Linked DNA regions of Homo sapiens: region 2 is linked to region 1. Evidence: fine-mapped expression QTL. Tissue or cell type: whole blood. Region 1 holds a variant in brackets; the other region holds the start of a gene. All regions are shown on one strand. Distances are between the middles of the regions.

Evidence for each region. PIP is the estimated chance that this variant, and not a neighbour inherited with it, causes the effect.
Region 2: it holds the start of SEMG1, and the variant in region 1 is fine-mapped to the expression of SEMG1 in whole blood (TOPMed, PIP above 0.99).

The regions. Positions count from the first base shown.
Region 1 is chr20:45,259,669-45,267,776 of GRCh38, reverse strand. The region is part of intron 2 of LOC105372630 (a long non-coding RNA gene); the gene reads right to left. Among named protein-coding and RNA genes, the nearest start is that of SLPI, 9.2 kb to the right of the region's middle. The variant G/A (reference allele first, on the strand shown) is at 3,422.
Region 2 is chr20:45,202,224-45,210,331 of GRCh38, reverse strand. SEMG1 (semenogelin 1) reads right to left here and starts at 3,299. Exons shown (of 3, transcript NM_003007.5): 1 at 3,203-3,299; 2 at 1,602-2,958; 3 at 564-731. The coding sequence starts at 3,278. The coding sequence ends at 1,646.

The DNA.
Region 1 (8,108 bases):
CTATGTTACTCCTAGCCTCAAGTGATTCTCCCGCCTCGGTCTCCCAAAGCATTGGGATTACAGGCATGAGCCACTGTACCTGGCCCATGGTCTAGGACATGGGGGATGATGGGAGGAAAGGAGAGAAGTGAGAGAGGTGGTGGGATTTGTGGCCTTGCTCTCAGCATGTGGAGTGGAAAGAATAGTGGATTTTGAGTGAGACAGATCATATCTTAAATCATAATTGTGTGAGTTATGTCCAAATTGCTCGGGAATTCATCCTTCTGAGCGTCAATTTTACCATGTATGTATGGGGTTAATATTAATTCCTTTTTTGTATGGTGGTGAGGAATAAAGGCATTGTTTGTGAGAGAAGTGCACAGTGACATCGGTCAACAACTAGTAGATATTTATTTTCCTTTAGGATCAGCTCCAGGTTCCTTGTGGCACCAATCCTCACTCCACCTCCTATTGAGAATGTTGCTGTTGTTGGTCAGGTTTAGCACTTTCTTTGGGGCACTATTCAGAAATCACACACACATGAGTGTGATCCTCTTTGATTTCATTTATCAGGAGTTGTAACACAGGTCTGAAATGAATTGCTTCAGTGGTTACCAGGCATGACCAGTTTCCTCTCCTCTCTTTGTCCTTTCTGGTTCCAGGAAGAAATTTGAAACCTGAACAAACCTCTAATCATTAAAGAATTTAAAATGGTAATTAAATTTCTCCTTTTATAAAAGAAAACAAGTTAAGAGGTTTTCACTTGGTAATTAAATCTCTTCTTTTAAAATGGGAAATAATATGAAATGTATTCATTTTTTACCAAACCTACAAGAAAGACAATTTCTATCCCAAATGATTTCAGAGACTAAAAGAAGGGAAAGCACGGATGGAAACTTTTGTGGTGCTTATCTTTGATATTGTGTGTTTATATCATAATCAGAGTTTAAGAAACTAGACTCTTTTTTCTTATGAGAATACATGGGAAAATCCAAAATGTTGGGATTTTTTGTCAGTGTTGAATTTTTTGAAGTTGATAACTGTACTGTGGTTATATAAAGGTGTCCTTATTCATAGCGAATACACACTGAAGTATTCATGGACAGAGGAGCATAATGTATACAACTTATTCTCAATGGTTGGAATAAAACATTCTATTCTCTCACACACACAAAAGAGAAAGAATGATAAAACAAATGTGGCAAAATGTTAATATTTAGTGAATCTGGGTGAAGGGAATATGGTAGTTCTTTGTACTGTTCTTCCCATTTTTTTCCATACATTTGAAATATTTCAAAGTGACAAGTATAATACATGCTAGGACATTTATTATAATAGTAGGGTATCCCTATAATAAATATAATAAATAAATAAATAAACAGATATGCAAAGATAGTTCAAGAACAGAAAATCTATCAAGGGGATTAAGCAAATTAAAAGTTTAAAGATGACCCAAATGAGTCTCTAAATAGTTTCATAAAAATCATTCTATATTGTATTCTACATTCATGTGTAATAAAAATAGAAACACCCTAGACCAGGAACAAAAGTGAACATAACTAATCTGGTAAAAGGTATTTACCAACAGTCGCAGCAAATATACTCAGTGATGACACTTTAGAAATGGCATCCTTAAAGACAGGTACAAGGGCAGAATTTCTCCCATCTCCATTTTCAGTCAATCTCATATTAGTGATCTTAGGCCAATGCAATAAAATTGGACATAAAAATAAAGAGGTATAAGGATTGGAAAGGGAGAGATAAAATTGTGAGTGTTTACAAATGATATGATTGTCTCAGGATGAAATCCAAGAGAATCAATGGGTAAACTATTCACAACAGCCATAAAATTTATGATTACCTGGAAAAATTATATGATGAAAATAAAATTTTATTAAAAGACTTGAAGAGGCCTTGAATAAATAGAGTGAGACTTATTTTTTTATACTTGGGAAGACTTACTATGGTAAATATTTTGGCTCTTCCAGGTAATTTATAGCATGGATGCAATCATAATAAAAATTCAACAGAGTTTTTAAGGACCTTGTCAAATTGACCCTAAAGTTTACATGGTAGAGTAAAAGCACAGGGATAGCCAAAACAATTCTAAACAAGCAAAACAGAAAAGACTTCTACTGCGAAGCACCAGGTTATAAAAAATATAGATGCAAATTAAAGGAGTATGGTATTGGTCTGGGAGTGAACAAATTGAGTAAGAAAACCTAGTAGAGTGCATCCATCCACATATGAAAACTGGTACAAAATTAATACAGTTTTATGATCAAAAGGGGGATCAATGATATAGGGAACAATTGGCATTCCATATTGGAAAAAAAATCAAACAAAGTCTCTACTTAAACCTTTCACAAAAATAAATTCCAGATGGATTAACGACTTAAATGTGGAAAATACAACTTTAAAAATGTGTTTATAAAATTGGAGATTGTCCTATTTTTAATCAAGATGACACCAGAGACAGTTTATGCTAACTGATGCTTCTATCTGGAGCTCACGCACCATCTGTACAGCAGGCACATCAGTTGCATGAACTGAAGAGTTGACCCTCAGTGGTTCTCTCTCCTTACCCCAGCTTTGGGCACAGGGAATCATGGCTGCTCTTCAGGCCTGGGTAAGAAGCATTATTCCTTAGACAGCCCCTATCAAATTCACCCAAAGCATTCCTTCCTCCTGTCACCTTGTATAGGAGGCCGACTCTGAGCCTTATTTTTCCTGTTTGTAAAATTGGATACTGTACTACCTGCTTTATTCATTGTTATAGGTTTAAATGTGAAAAAGCATGCAAAGCCTTTAGCACAGTGTCCAGCATAAAAAAGATGCTCAGTAATTATTAGCCACAAGTATCAGAATTATCAAAGGGAACATATTTATTAAGTGGGAAAGACAGGATTTAAAAGCTGGTCAGTCTGATTCCAAAGTCTGTGATCTTTTAATGAATGTCACTGAGATCAAGCGAAAGGATATAGGATAATTTGGGAGATGTTAGTCCAGGCTGTGGAATTGGGGGTCTGCATCCTCCTTGTTCTAGAGTTTGATAGGTCATTTTTCTTTCTCCTCTTGGCCTCCCCTGTAGGTTCCAGCATTGCTGACAATTGCCTAATTTCCAATACTCATTCTTTCTCCCAACACTTTAAAATTGTAAAACAAAACATGCATTAGGAAAAGCACATAAAATAAGAGTAAGATTTAATGAACAATTACAAAGCAAACACATGTTCAACCGCCACAGAGGCCATGTTCTTTTTTTAATATGTCTTATCAAGGCCCACAACTTCCTTAGTGACAAGTCATGGCTTCTTTTTTGTTGGTCCTTGAGTAAATGGATGTCTCCCTTTGGGGAGATATGCCAGCCCGTGGGGGAAAAATGTGAGAAACATCTTGGTCTTCAATCCGACACTGTCACAAATCATTTCTTGGGAGGGGA[G/A]GTTTCGAATGCTCCTGCCACCACTGAATTTTCTTGGCTTCTACTTCTGGTTCAGACATTTGCTGCTGTTGCCCCAGATCCCAGCTCTCCCCATCCATGAGTTCTCTAACTCTTCTTTGTACTGTTTTTTTCTGAGGGCAACCACCTTTCTCAGTCTCTCCAGAATTGCTAAGAAGAATCCAACCTGCACAAATGGCAAAATTCGAGCCAAGGGAATTCAAGCCTTCTGGTAAAAGAAGGAGGTGGACACCCAGCCTCTCCCTTGAAGTGCATTGCTGCTCTTAGACCAACAGGGATGACTGGACATGCTGCCCCTCCCATGTTTTTATTCCTTTCTCAGCTTCTCCTTGCCCTGTCTCCACAAGTGATTTTTTTTCTTTTAAATTTTTATTTTTTTCTTTTATTTTTCTTTAGAGATGGGGTCTCGCTATTTTGCCCAGGCTGGTCTTGAAATACTGGGCTCAAACGATCCTCCCACCTTGGCCTCCCAAAGTGCTAGGATTACAGACACCAGAATAGAGATATAATTGCCTCCATTTTCTATGGGAAAATCTTAAGGCACACTCTAGGTTTGCAAATCATGCTAATTCCTTTCCAGCATGCACCAATTTATAACTTGTATGTCTTATTTTGTAGGGGATGACCTTGGTTAGCTGTCTAATTGAGGAAGACCTTAAACATAAATGCACATAGAGGCATTGCTGATTGATAATTTGATTTATGTTCATGGGAGGAAAAACAACATCAAACAAGAGAGCTATGGTTAGGTGCTTATTGTTTATTGATGCTAAGTCTCTTTCTATGTCTTTTAAAACAAGCAATGAGGCTGAATTTTCAGAGAATGCAGATACCTAACAATTGGCCTAAGGGTTGTCCTGCCTAATTTGGTAAAAAAGTGGCAGACAACTGTACATTATTTAGATTTACCAGATGAACATATAAAAAAAACCAAGTAGAAATACTGGAAATAAATGATTATTGAAATAAAAATTCATTACTTACTAGATAGAACTAGCATTCGACCCAGCAATCTCATTACTGGATATATACCCAAACGAATAGAAATTGTTCTACCATGAAGACACATGCGTGCATATATTCATTGCAGCAGTATTCAAAATAGCAAAGACATGGAATTAATCTAGATGCCCATCAATGGTGGACTGGATAAAGAAACTGTGATACATAAACACCATGGAATACTATGCAGGCATAAGAAAGAATGAAATAATGTCCTTTGTAGCAACATGGATGGAGCCGGAGGCCATTATCCTAAGTGAATTAAAGCAGCAACAGAAAAACCAAAAACAGAGTATCACATCATCTCACTTATAAGTGTGAGCTAAACACTGAATACACGTGGACACAAAGAAGAGAACAATAGGCATTGGGGCTTACTTGAGAGTGAAGGGTTCGAGGAGGGTTAGGACTGAAAGAGTACCTATTGGGTATTACCTGGGTGACAAAGTTATCTGTACATCAAATATTAACATGCAATTTACCCATGTTAACAAGCTGCACATGTACCCTTGAACCTAAAATAAAAGTTGGAAAAACATTGGATAAAGTAGAGTTTAGACTGGATGCAGCTGAAAGAAAACTTGGTGAATTTTTAGCCAGTACTGAGAAATTCACCCAGAGCCCAGCACAGAGAGATGAAGAGAAAAATATAAGAGAAAGGCAAAACAACGATAATAAAAATAGAAGGTCTAGTAAATATCCGGTGGAAGTTCCAGAAAGAGACTGGAGAGAATGGCACAGAAGTAATATTCAAAGAGATAAAGAAAGGACTTTTTCTTTTAGGATTAAATTAAGACATGCATCTTCAGACTAAAAGTGCATATTTGGAGTAAAGCAGAATAAATAAAAGGCAAACATGACTCGGCGAGATTTCTGACAATAGTTACTAGTTCATGCTTTTATATGAAGCAAATGGACCAGGAGCCAACTAAACATGAAAACCAAGCCTCATAATGGCCACTGATTGTTCATGTCGATCCCCACATCCTGCTGCACCTATATAAAGTGAATTCTTGAAAAGGTGCAGATGCCCTTCCTTCCCCAACAAAAGGGCATCCTCTGCAATACTCCTCCAAGATGTAGCCATGGAAGGTGACAGGCAAAGGAGAGGCTCCCAGACAGCAGAACTGGATTCTTCAGATTTATTGAGTAAGGAAATCACTCCAACATTAGGTAGGAAGTCCTCACATCCCTGTCTTACAGGATGTACAATCCGTATTACGGGCCAGTGACAATTTGTATATATCTTCCTATATTTCCCTTTTGCAAATAGGACTTTTTATTGCAGTCATTCCGCCCTCAATCTACCATTCTATATTGGGTGCATTTGAAGTGGTTAAATTTACTTAAGCTTATTAAACTTAATCTGTGAAGACTATAAATTTAACTGACAGAACTGCTTTCACCCACATTGCAGAACTGGAGATGAATATAGTACCCAGAGAGACATTTTGTTGTCTTTCTTTGGGAGAGAGGTTGAGTGCATTTTATGTAGATGTTGGTTTAGAAAGTATTTGAAAAAATTTAGTTATGTAGATTTCAGTAACCAAAAGGGGTATACTTTAGAGAACACTCACTGCTATTTTTACCACTGAGCATCCTTTCACCCTTCTGCTGGTAGCTATATCCTAATTTACCCCAGGAGAATCATTCCCTCTCCCACTCTGAAAATTCCACTGGATTTGGGGATGAGTACACATGGTGATGAGTATTGTGGCCTTGGCTTAAACCAATCGGTACATCCCAGTTCCCTGGTCCCAATCATTGGTTTAAAGATTTAATTCTAGCCACTCCTAGTTAGTTGAGTTGCCCAGAAAAAGCCCTTACTAGACATGAATTTGGGAAGATGGGAGGAGATGCCACAGCCATATTATAAATGCTAAGAGGGAGCCTGACTAAGAATGAAGCCAACATGAAGAGAAGTGCCGTGGAGAGAATCTTGTGGGAGCTATAGTTTGAGCCCTTGCTCAAATTGCACCTGAAAATAGCACCTATTCTCCTTGGTTTATTCAGCACTCTCACTTCTTGCATCTTTAAGATCATTTTTTAACTTTCCGCCGAAGGATTATCTGGACAGTGCTACTATCCCAGGCATCTCCAACTCTGGGTTTAGGACTAAAGAAGTCTTGGAGGGACCATAATGAAGCAGTATGTGGCTGAATTCTGAAGACTTGGGTTTGAATCTTACTGTACCTCTGACTTGCTGTGTCATCTTGGGCAAGTGGGCTTACTCTCTGAGGTTCCATTTCCTTTTCTTTAAAATGGGATATAAAAGTGCTTGGTCCACTGTGAAGTTCGGGGTCATGCATGGTGTCTATTCCTAGGCTTTTTATTCAGGAAAGTTGGCTCTCTGGGTCCTGAGAGTCCTCTATAAGGCAAAAACCCAGCTAGAATCTAAGACTTGGGGCCTCTAAAGAGCATCTGTTCCAATGCACTGATCTTACAAATAGGGAAACTGAGGCCCAGAGAAAGGAAGGTTCTACATCAAATTGGACAGAGCTGGGATTCCAGCCCAGTGTCCTGAGTCCAGTATCATCGTCATGCCTCTCTAGCTGACCACAGGGTCCCAGAGGCCAGAAGTGATGCTATCAAGTGTGAGTCTTTCATGGTCTTTCTGGCACTCTGCTCTGTTTGGGCCACAGAGGTGTCCTCATAGTGGTGCTCTCCACTGACCCCAGGCTTAGACACCAAACTCTCCCATAGTAATGATCAACCAGGCATCGTCTGCCATGTCCATCTAAGACCCTACCATCTCCTGATCTGCAACAGGAACGTTTCTCTGAGACTCACTTTTTCTCATCTGTAAACTGACTTGACATTAGTATCTACCAAGTTTTGTGTGACGCTTAAATGTAACAAAACATGCTAAACCAAAGGAGATGGATTCTAGTGATTTGGGGACATCTTTTCCCAAGCTGCTTATAGCTCTGTTCCACAGTTTAATAATCCAGTTTTTCTATTCCCGGTTTTCTTCCATGGGTAGTCATGATGGCAGTTTCTTAATGCCGAGCACTGTTTTTCTTTTTGTTTTACCAGGTCCCTAAAGCATTTCCTCATGACATACCACAGACTTTGTTTCTTTAACCTTAGGTTAACTGGATCCCTTCCTCTAGGGAGACAGACATGCAGTTTTTGAAGGAATAAAGTGCAGAGCCCTGATCTGTACACCAACCATCTCTTGCATGGTAATAAGTATGAAGACACCTGAGATCCACCGTTGTTGGTTAATTTCTCCTGCCAATTCTTTGATGGTGGATGTTTTTCACCCTTGCCCAGATTCTGCTTTACTGCCCTTCACCCATTCACTTGTGGGCCTAAAAGGACAGTTCATATTTCCAGATTTTATTAGGACTATGATGAGCAGTAGGGGAGGAAGTACAAACATTGCAGAATTCAAACTTTCTTGGGTGGGAAAATGATAAGGAGTGGCTAAGCCATCTGTTTCTCTGGAAGGTCTAGGGAGATCCAGTTGCCATGTCCACCACCTGTGGATGACACTTCCAGAGGTGATTTAAATGACCCCACCTCCCTTGCAGTCATCTCTTTCTCATCTACTCTTCCTGTCTCAGCTCGGGGTTTTTTTTTCCCCAATACTCTCCCCACCACACCTACTACATCTCCATACTCCCTGGCTCTGTGTCTCCATTCCCATTTGGTCATTATTGAC
Region 2 (8,108 bases), 57 kb after region 1:
GGAAAAGGCAGTATAGGCAGCAGTATTTCCATTATGAAGACACCACCTGCCTCAAGATTCCTTTGACTGGTCATCTGGTCTTTCCATCCACAGGTGACATTTTAACCCACTTGCTGTTACTGAAGTTGTGCAGATTTAACATATCACCTTTGGTGTAATTGCATCTCAATGGATACTGTAGGCGTAAGACATTCTTAAGCTAATTGAAGGGATGTGCTACTGTGGAATTGATCACCAGCAGATCAGGGACTTTCCCAGGGCCTGTTGCAATACATTTTCTCTTGTCTTTCTGGGATATTTTTAGTTCCTGGGGTCTTATTAGTACCAGGGTCATGAAAGCCTTTAGTGTTGGCCTCAGGTGGTAGACATGTGACTGGTAGACTAACAGCACCCTATTTTTAGTGTTGGTTTCTATCAATATATCTTGAAATGTGGCTTTGATTACTATTCTCCCTAGTGCTTCAAAAATATCCCTTTATTTTCTTTCAAAACCACTTACATTAGAAATGCCCTCAACCCCTTGAGCCACTAGGAATCCAGAGAAAACAGGAGTCAAAAGCAGATGAAGCAGAAAATGATCTCTTTATTGGAAGTTTGAAGGCGCTTCAGGTTAGGAAAGCCTAATTCAAGGAAGCATGGGCAGGTGGTGTCATCCATGGACCAAGAATCTGAAACTACACGGGAGTCTGCATCTCAGAAACATCACAGAATTCACTGAGGTCAACTGACACCTAGAGAGAAAGAAGAGAATCAGTGATGTGAGTATAGTAAAAAGTGAAGGGTGGGGATGGTAGCTGGGCCCCCTGTCCCCTTCAGCTCCAACTGTACCAGCCCTCTACTACTAGGATACCAGGCCACTAGTTGCCAGCTGGGGCCACTGTTTCTACTGCTTGCCCTCTCTTCAAGTGCAGTGTTACTTACTGCAAAGAGGCAGGGAAGCACCATTACCCCTCTCAGGGCTTCAGTTTTCTTCTCCTGATGTTGTAAACACCCAATTGGCCCATGAGATCCCTCACCATCTCTTGTGTCTCCCTTTCCATCTTCTCTTTCACAACATGAACAAGGATCTTTCTACATATCTCTTTCCTGTATTCTGAGAGGGAGGACTGATAGTCTTTGGGCTTGTGGTCTCTGAAGGAGCATAGATGAACCCTAACAGGGATGCAAGAACATTCACTGGTGTGCAGAAAGAAAACATTAATGGCTGTAATCCTTTATACTATATAGGAAAGAAACTGAGGTTTACTAATCTAAAGTATAAGAACTGACAAGAGTATACCATAAACTTATAAATATGCATATGTAGTCAGTACCTGTTCAAAAAAACCTTTAGCAGGTAGGCATATACAAAAAAATATTATTGAAGAATATTCAATTAAGGATAGGAATTCTAGGACCTCATGATAGGCCAAACATCCTTCTGTGCCACTACCAGACCCTCTCCTCACCAGGGAATGGGGAGGCTCATCTTCCTACCACTTGTTATACAGCACTTCTATTGGTGCGAACAATGGTTATCAATCCCACAAAAGTCCTGGAGAGTCCCCAACAATTCTAAACAATGAGAGAGATATCTCCCCTATTTGCTAAAAAAAAATTACCTTGATATTGGTCCATCCTTTCACATGGTTACCGAATGGTAGGTTTATGTAAATAATGGGTTTCGGTCGTTGTTAAGATGTTGTGCCAAATGACGATCACTGTCATCTTCCTGCTCTATAATTACAATATCCAATCCCCCATGAGATCCATGTTGGTGTCTGCCTTTTTGTTCATGACTGAGTAGGTCTTGTTCTCTATTTGTAGATTGGCCAGACTCTCCTTTTGCATTTTCACCATGCCATGGCTCTTGCTTAGGATTTGGTGCCTGGATTTGAGACTTGCCTGCTACTAGCTTTTCAGTTTGGCTATAAATACTGCGTTGGGATACATCTTTCTGCACACCATTTTCTCCATAGTGGAGTCGTCTTTCTTCCGTACTTGAAGATTGGTATGATATTTTATTTGCCTTTTGGCTATGCTCTTGCTCTTGACTGGGAATTGTTATCTGTTTTTGAGACTTGCCCTGTGCTTTCTCTTCAGTTTGGCTATAAATACTGCTTTGGGATACATCTTTCTGCACACCATTTTCTCCATAGTGGAGTCGTCTTTCTTCTGTACTTGAAGATTGGTATGATATTTTATTTGCCTTTCGGCCATGCTGTTGATCTTGATTGAGATTTTTTGTCTGGTGTTGATTCTTGTTATATACTAGGAGCTCATCTTGGGTAGAAAAAATGTCTTTGGATCCATGTTGGAGTTTGTCTTGGTGCGCAGGACAGAGTGAGGTTTGTACTTTACTTGAATGTTCCTCTCTCACTTCAACCACATTTTGGTAATGCCCTTTATTTTGATGAGAATTTTTAGTCTCACGTTGTTGTTTGTTAGCTACTAGCTCTTCAGTTTGGAGAACATAACTGCTTTGGGATCCGCCTTGTTTTCTACCTTTTTGTGCACCAGAGACGGAAGTTTGTTCTTTACTTAGTCCATGAACCCACAGCCTTTCTTCTGTGTTTGAATATTGACTGGATATTCCCTTTCCAGATGGGCTATTCCCCTGATCTTGAGAAGGATTTTGTGTCCCACGATGAGCTTTGCCTCCTTTATGGTGTATAACTACCCTGTGAAAATGACCTTTTGATTTATCATGGTCTCTGCCTTCTTGTTTATTATGGAGCAGTTGTTGACTTCCACCTAGATGTCGTTGTGATTTTGTCGTCTTATGTAGGGCATTCAAATCATATTGCTGACTTTTTCGGGACTGGTCATGATCATTGGCATCTACATGATATGTGTATTGAATAGAAAAACTGCCTTTGGATTCAGTTTGTTGCTTGCCTTTTTGTCCAGAATAGTGCTGGCCCTTTTGTCCGTGTGGAAATTGGGAAAATTCACTTGGTAATCGGCCTTTTGATCCACCTGGTAATTGATAATAAGAAGGTATGCATTCATTATCTCCAAAGCTCCCTTACAACTCTTACCCCCCACTTTTCCCCCAACAAATTATTGATATTTCTAGAAAAGCTGAAGCTTTGGGTGGAGAAAATCAATTCTCTTCAAAGAGAAGAATCTGTGCCTAAACAGGTTACTGTTTGCACCCCAAATAATCTTAGATTATTAGCTGTCTGAGCAGCTTTCCCCAAGGCTTACCCTCTCCACTCACCTTTTTGTCCCATCACAGCTGCTTGCTTCTCCAAGATGAGGAGCAGGGAAAGTACAAAGATGATGTTGGGCTTCATCTTGCTTGGAAAACCTTGTCTGAGAGCTGAGCCGACCTTGTCATTTATATCTTCCTTGAGTGAGTGTGCCATGGGTGGAGCTTAAATTACAAAAGGCACTGACTTTTCTTAGCTTATCAGTAAATGCCAACTTCCTCACCCCTGCTGAGTGTGGGACAAAGTCAATGTCCCCAGCAACATAATGTCAAAGGCATTTTCTTTCTTCTGGCAGCCCCAGCAAATTTTTATCAGTCCTTTTAGATCATCATGCCAGATCACTTTAATTTTACAGAATTATAGACAAAAGTAGGAAAGAGACTGGCTTCAGGCTACAAAAGCAATTGGTTTCTGAGAATGCCTTTATATTCTAAATGTGAGTTTCCCTTCATGATGCAATAATTTAAATACTCTATTTTAGATAGAACTCCATACTTCCTTTTGTTTTAAAAATGATCTTGAGACACGTTCTATTTTACCTAAGAATGAGCAATCATAGAAGTCCAATGATATAGAAGATAATGAAACGTTATGGAATCCAAAGAAAGAAATTTTAAACAAGTAAATGGGGCACTCCAATGTCAAATATGTCTGTCAAGTTCAACACAATAAAGACTGACATGTATCCAAAGTTTTTCTTAGTTGTTGCTAGTAACTTTAATGAGAGATGAATACAATTGCATTGGGTTGTCAGTTGAAGGATGGAGACCAGCTGCAACCTTCTCAGGAAGTCTGAATTCATGGTGGAGTGAGAGCTGAGGCTGTATCTGGAGGGTGAGGTAAGTTCCAGATGTGTTTTCAAAGGATGAAAGAATTTTAATATGCTTTCATGGTGATAGGAACAACTGTTGGAAAAAAAGTAAAAATGCTGGTTTCTAGATTGGGTTCTTTTCATGAAATCTACCTAAACAGCAGAATTTTCTTTTTAATTAAGAGAAGTTTCTACTTCAGTAGTAAACAGCTGAATCCCCAAACAGGCTGTGAGAAATATTTGCCACCATCAATGAATTGAATAATGTATTGTGAGTGGACATGAAGCTAAAATTCCCACCTTTGGTAGAAGCATAGATTTTTCCAATTGTGATGACATCCTGAAAAGTCTGAAGAAACTTTCTTTACTTTGAGTCATAAAGACTTCGTTATGAGCAGACCACAGGAGAAGAAGAAAGCATCCCAACAGTGTCCCTGTGTACATTCAGAACACCTTGGAGGGTAGTGCTGGGGAAAGGATAGCTTGAAAACTTATTTTCAATTATTCTGTCTTAGAATCTTAACCTTCCTGTAGGCAATGCTCTATGGAAGGGGAAAAGAGAAAGGCCAACCACAGAAAAAAAGTGCTATGCTATCAAACATAAATCATGTGAGCTGCATGGTTTCTCTATGAGCCACTCTGAGATCTTACCAAATTTATCTGTTTGCCTCAAAGGCAGTAAGTAGTTCCTTATTGCAGAAACCCCAACAGAGTAAGGTGATATTGTTCTGAACTAAAATTGATTACTGTGTCTGCTAACCACTGTAATCTTCCTCACACTTCCCTTAAGAAAATACCAGAAACTGTTCTGTTCCAAACTTACTGATACAAAATAGAGTCTGAAATATTAATCTTACTTATGGATCAAGAACAAAACTTTCATCTCATCTAGTGTCCAAAAGATGCAGATAAAACAAAAGGGCACAATATTTGCAAAAACAAACCAGGAAAATGCAATCCAAGCAAAACATGTGATTACTATATTCATATTAGAATTGAATTCAATGAAATGTGGAAAAAAACATTTCCAAATGATAAAGGAATGTATTGATAAAGTTGAAATCAGAAATCAGTGATTTGGAAAGCATAAAAATGGTATGGTGATGCATACATCTTAGATATGGAATTATGATGGGGGAAAAGATTAAGTGATCAAATGATTTGTCCTGTTGGACAAATAAAAAATGCAAAAATATTAAAGTGCACTAAATTGGCACAAAAATCTGAAAGTTTTATACTCATAGGAAAAGAAGAAAACAGGAGGACTTAAATGTATTTTGCTCAATTCTATGGGAAATCACTTTACAACTTAGAAAAGATTCAAATATAGTTATTTTTGGGGAATGGGCAGAAAAACCTGGTAGAGTAGGACTCCCCAGAGATTATACCCTCCAAAACGTCGAATTTAATAATTATCCACATATGATAATAGTTTCTCAAAAGCTAAACAGGCCAGATGAGATATTACAGAACCTGATTATAGTATAATAATTAAAAATACACATTGAAGAGGGCACGAAAGACAATTTTGTTTCCTGTATCACCCCTAACCCAATCACAGGCAGCACAGTGCAGAGAGAGCTACTTTCTTTTGGGGGGAAGGGAATGAAGTAAGGCTTGGACTTTTTCACGGAACAAAATACTAGTCTATAATAGTAAAATTCAGCACTGGGAGGACACCCATAGTGACCCTGCTTGAATACCTGTGGCCTAAGCAGCAAGACCTGCCCCAGCAGCAGAGAGGAACACATAGTTCCTGTGAGATAGACTTGCGTTCTTACCTGTACCACTGGCAGCCAACTACAGCAGCCTTGGATTATGAATAACCAACATACGTAGGCAGGTATCAGTGAGGAGGAGTTGGGAATGCATTCCATCATTGTGCCAGCCTCTGCAGCCATGGGTTACAGCCTGGTGCAGAACTGGCCATGGTGGTCCTGGGTTTATGACATCTCCTTGTGCTGCAATGACTGAAACAGTCACAGGCTTACAAACCTAGAACAGATGATCTGCCTAGAATTTCCGGACAGAGTTGAGGGACATTCTCAGACAAAGCCAAACTGGAGTAAGTACCTACCTTAAATTCAATATCTGCATTCAAGTACCTACCTGCAATTCAATAAGTACCTACTTCTTCAATGTGCAGACATCAATGCACAATCACAAGGATCAAGAACAATCGGGGAAAACTGATGACACCAAATTAACAAAATAAGGTACCAAATGAACAAAATAAGATACCATTGATTGGCCCCAAAGACATGGAGATGTATGACCTGCCTGAAAGAGAATTTAAAATGGCTGTTCTAAGGAAGCTCAAAGAACTTTAATAAAATACAGATAAATAATTAAATGAAATGATGAAAACAATAAGTGACCAGAAAGAGAGATGTAACAAAGGGTAAAAATGATAACATTTAATATCTAATGTTAATATAGGAGCTGAAGAATGCAATGAATAAAATGAAAAGTGTGAAAAGTGCAATAGAGTGCATTAACACCAGAAATGATCAAGCAGAAGGAATAATCTGTGAGCTTGAATACAGGTTATTTGACAATATATACTCAGAAAAGGAAAAAAGAAAAAAGAATAGAATGAAGGAAACTTATGAGATGTATGGAATAGCATTAAGTGAGCAAAGGGACAATTTACTGGCATTCAAGAGAAGTTAGAGAAAGATAAATGGAAAAGTAAAGAAAGCTTATTAAATAAGTAATAACAGAAAACTTTCCAAATCTGAGGAGTTCATATATATATATATATATATATATATATATATATATATACACACACACACACACACACATATATACACCCATATATATACATATACATATATACATATATATTATATATATATGTATGTGTCTATTATATATATATATATGTAGTCAAAGTGCAGGATGGTCAACAGTCACCAATCACATTCAATTCAAAAAAGACTAGACATATAATAATTAAACTGTGAAAGATCAAAGACAAATAAATGATACTGAAGCAGCAAAAGAAAAGAAGCAAATAAAATGCAAAACAGTTCCAATACACTTCACATCAGACCTTTTTTTTCTTTTTCAACTGTTATTTTACATTCAGGGGCCAAGTGTGCAAATTTGTTACCTGGGTATATTGCATGATGCTGAAGCTCGGGGTATGAATTTTCCTGTCATTCTGATACTGACTATAATACCCAACATTTAGTTTTTCAACCCTTGTCCCCTTCCCTCCCTCCTTCTCTCCTCTAGTAGTCTTCAGTGTGTATTATTTCCATCTTTATGTTCATGAGTATCTGACATTTAGCTCCCCTCTATAACTGAGAACATGTGGTATATAGTTTTCTCTTCCTGCATTAATCTACTTAGGATAATGGCCTCCCACTGCATCCATGTTGCTGCAAATGCATGATTTTATTTATTTTTTATGACTGTGTAGTATTCCATGGTGTATATACACCATATTTTCTTTATCCAATCCACCATTGATGGGCACCTAAGTCGATTCCATGTTTTTGCTAGTATGAATAGTGCTGCAATCAAATCATATTTCTCAAAGGGAACATTAAAGATCAGAGGAGAGTGGAATAATATTATCAAAGTAATGAAAAAAAAGAAAACCATCCAAGCATACTATACTCAGCAAAGCTGTTCTTCAGAAATGACAGAGAAATGAAAACTTTCCTAGACATACAAAGGTGAGGAAGTATGTCACCATCAGACCTATTTTACAAGAAATGCTAAAGGAGTTCTTCAAGGTGAAAGAAAAGGATGCTAATGAGTAATACAAAATAATCTAAAAGTGTAGAACTCACTAATAAAATTAATTACACAGTCAAAATTCAGAATACTGTGATACTATAATGGTGATGTATAAATCACTTCTATCTTTAGTATGAAGGCTAAAAGATAAAACTTGAAATTAATAATAACTACAATAAATTGTTAATGTATATGGCACATAAAAGCTGTTAATTGTGACATGAAAATATCAAAATGCGGGGAGGGAAGTGGTGGTAAGGTGTAGTTTTATGTTTTGTAATCAAACAAATTATTATCAGGTTAAAATCACTTGTGATAGCTACAGGATTTTTTTTAAAGGCCTCATGTTA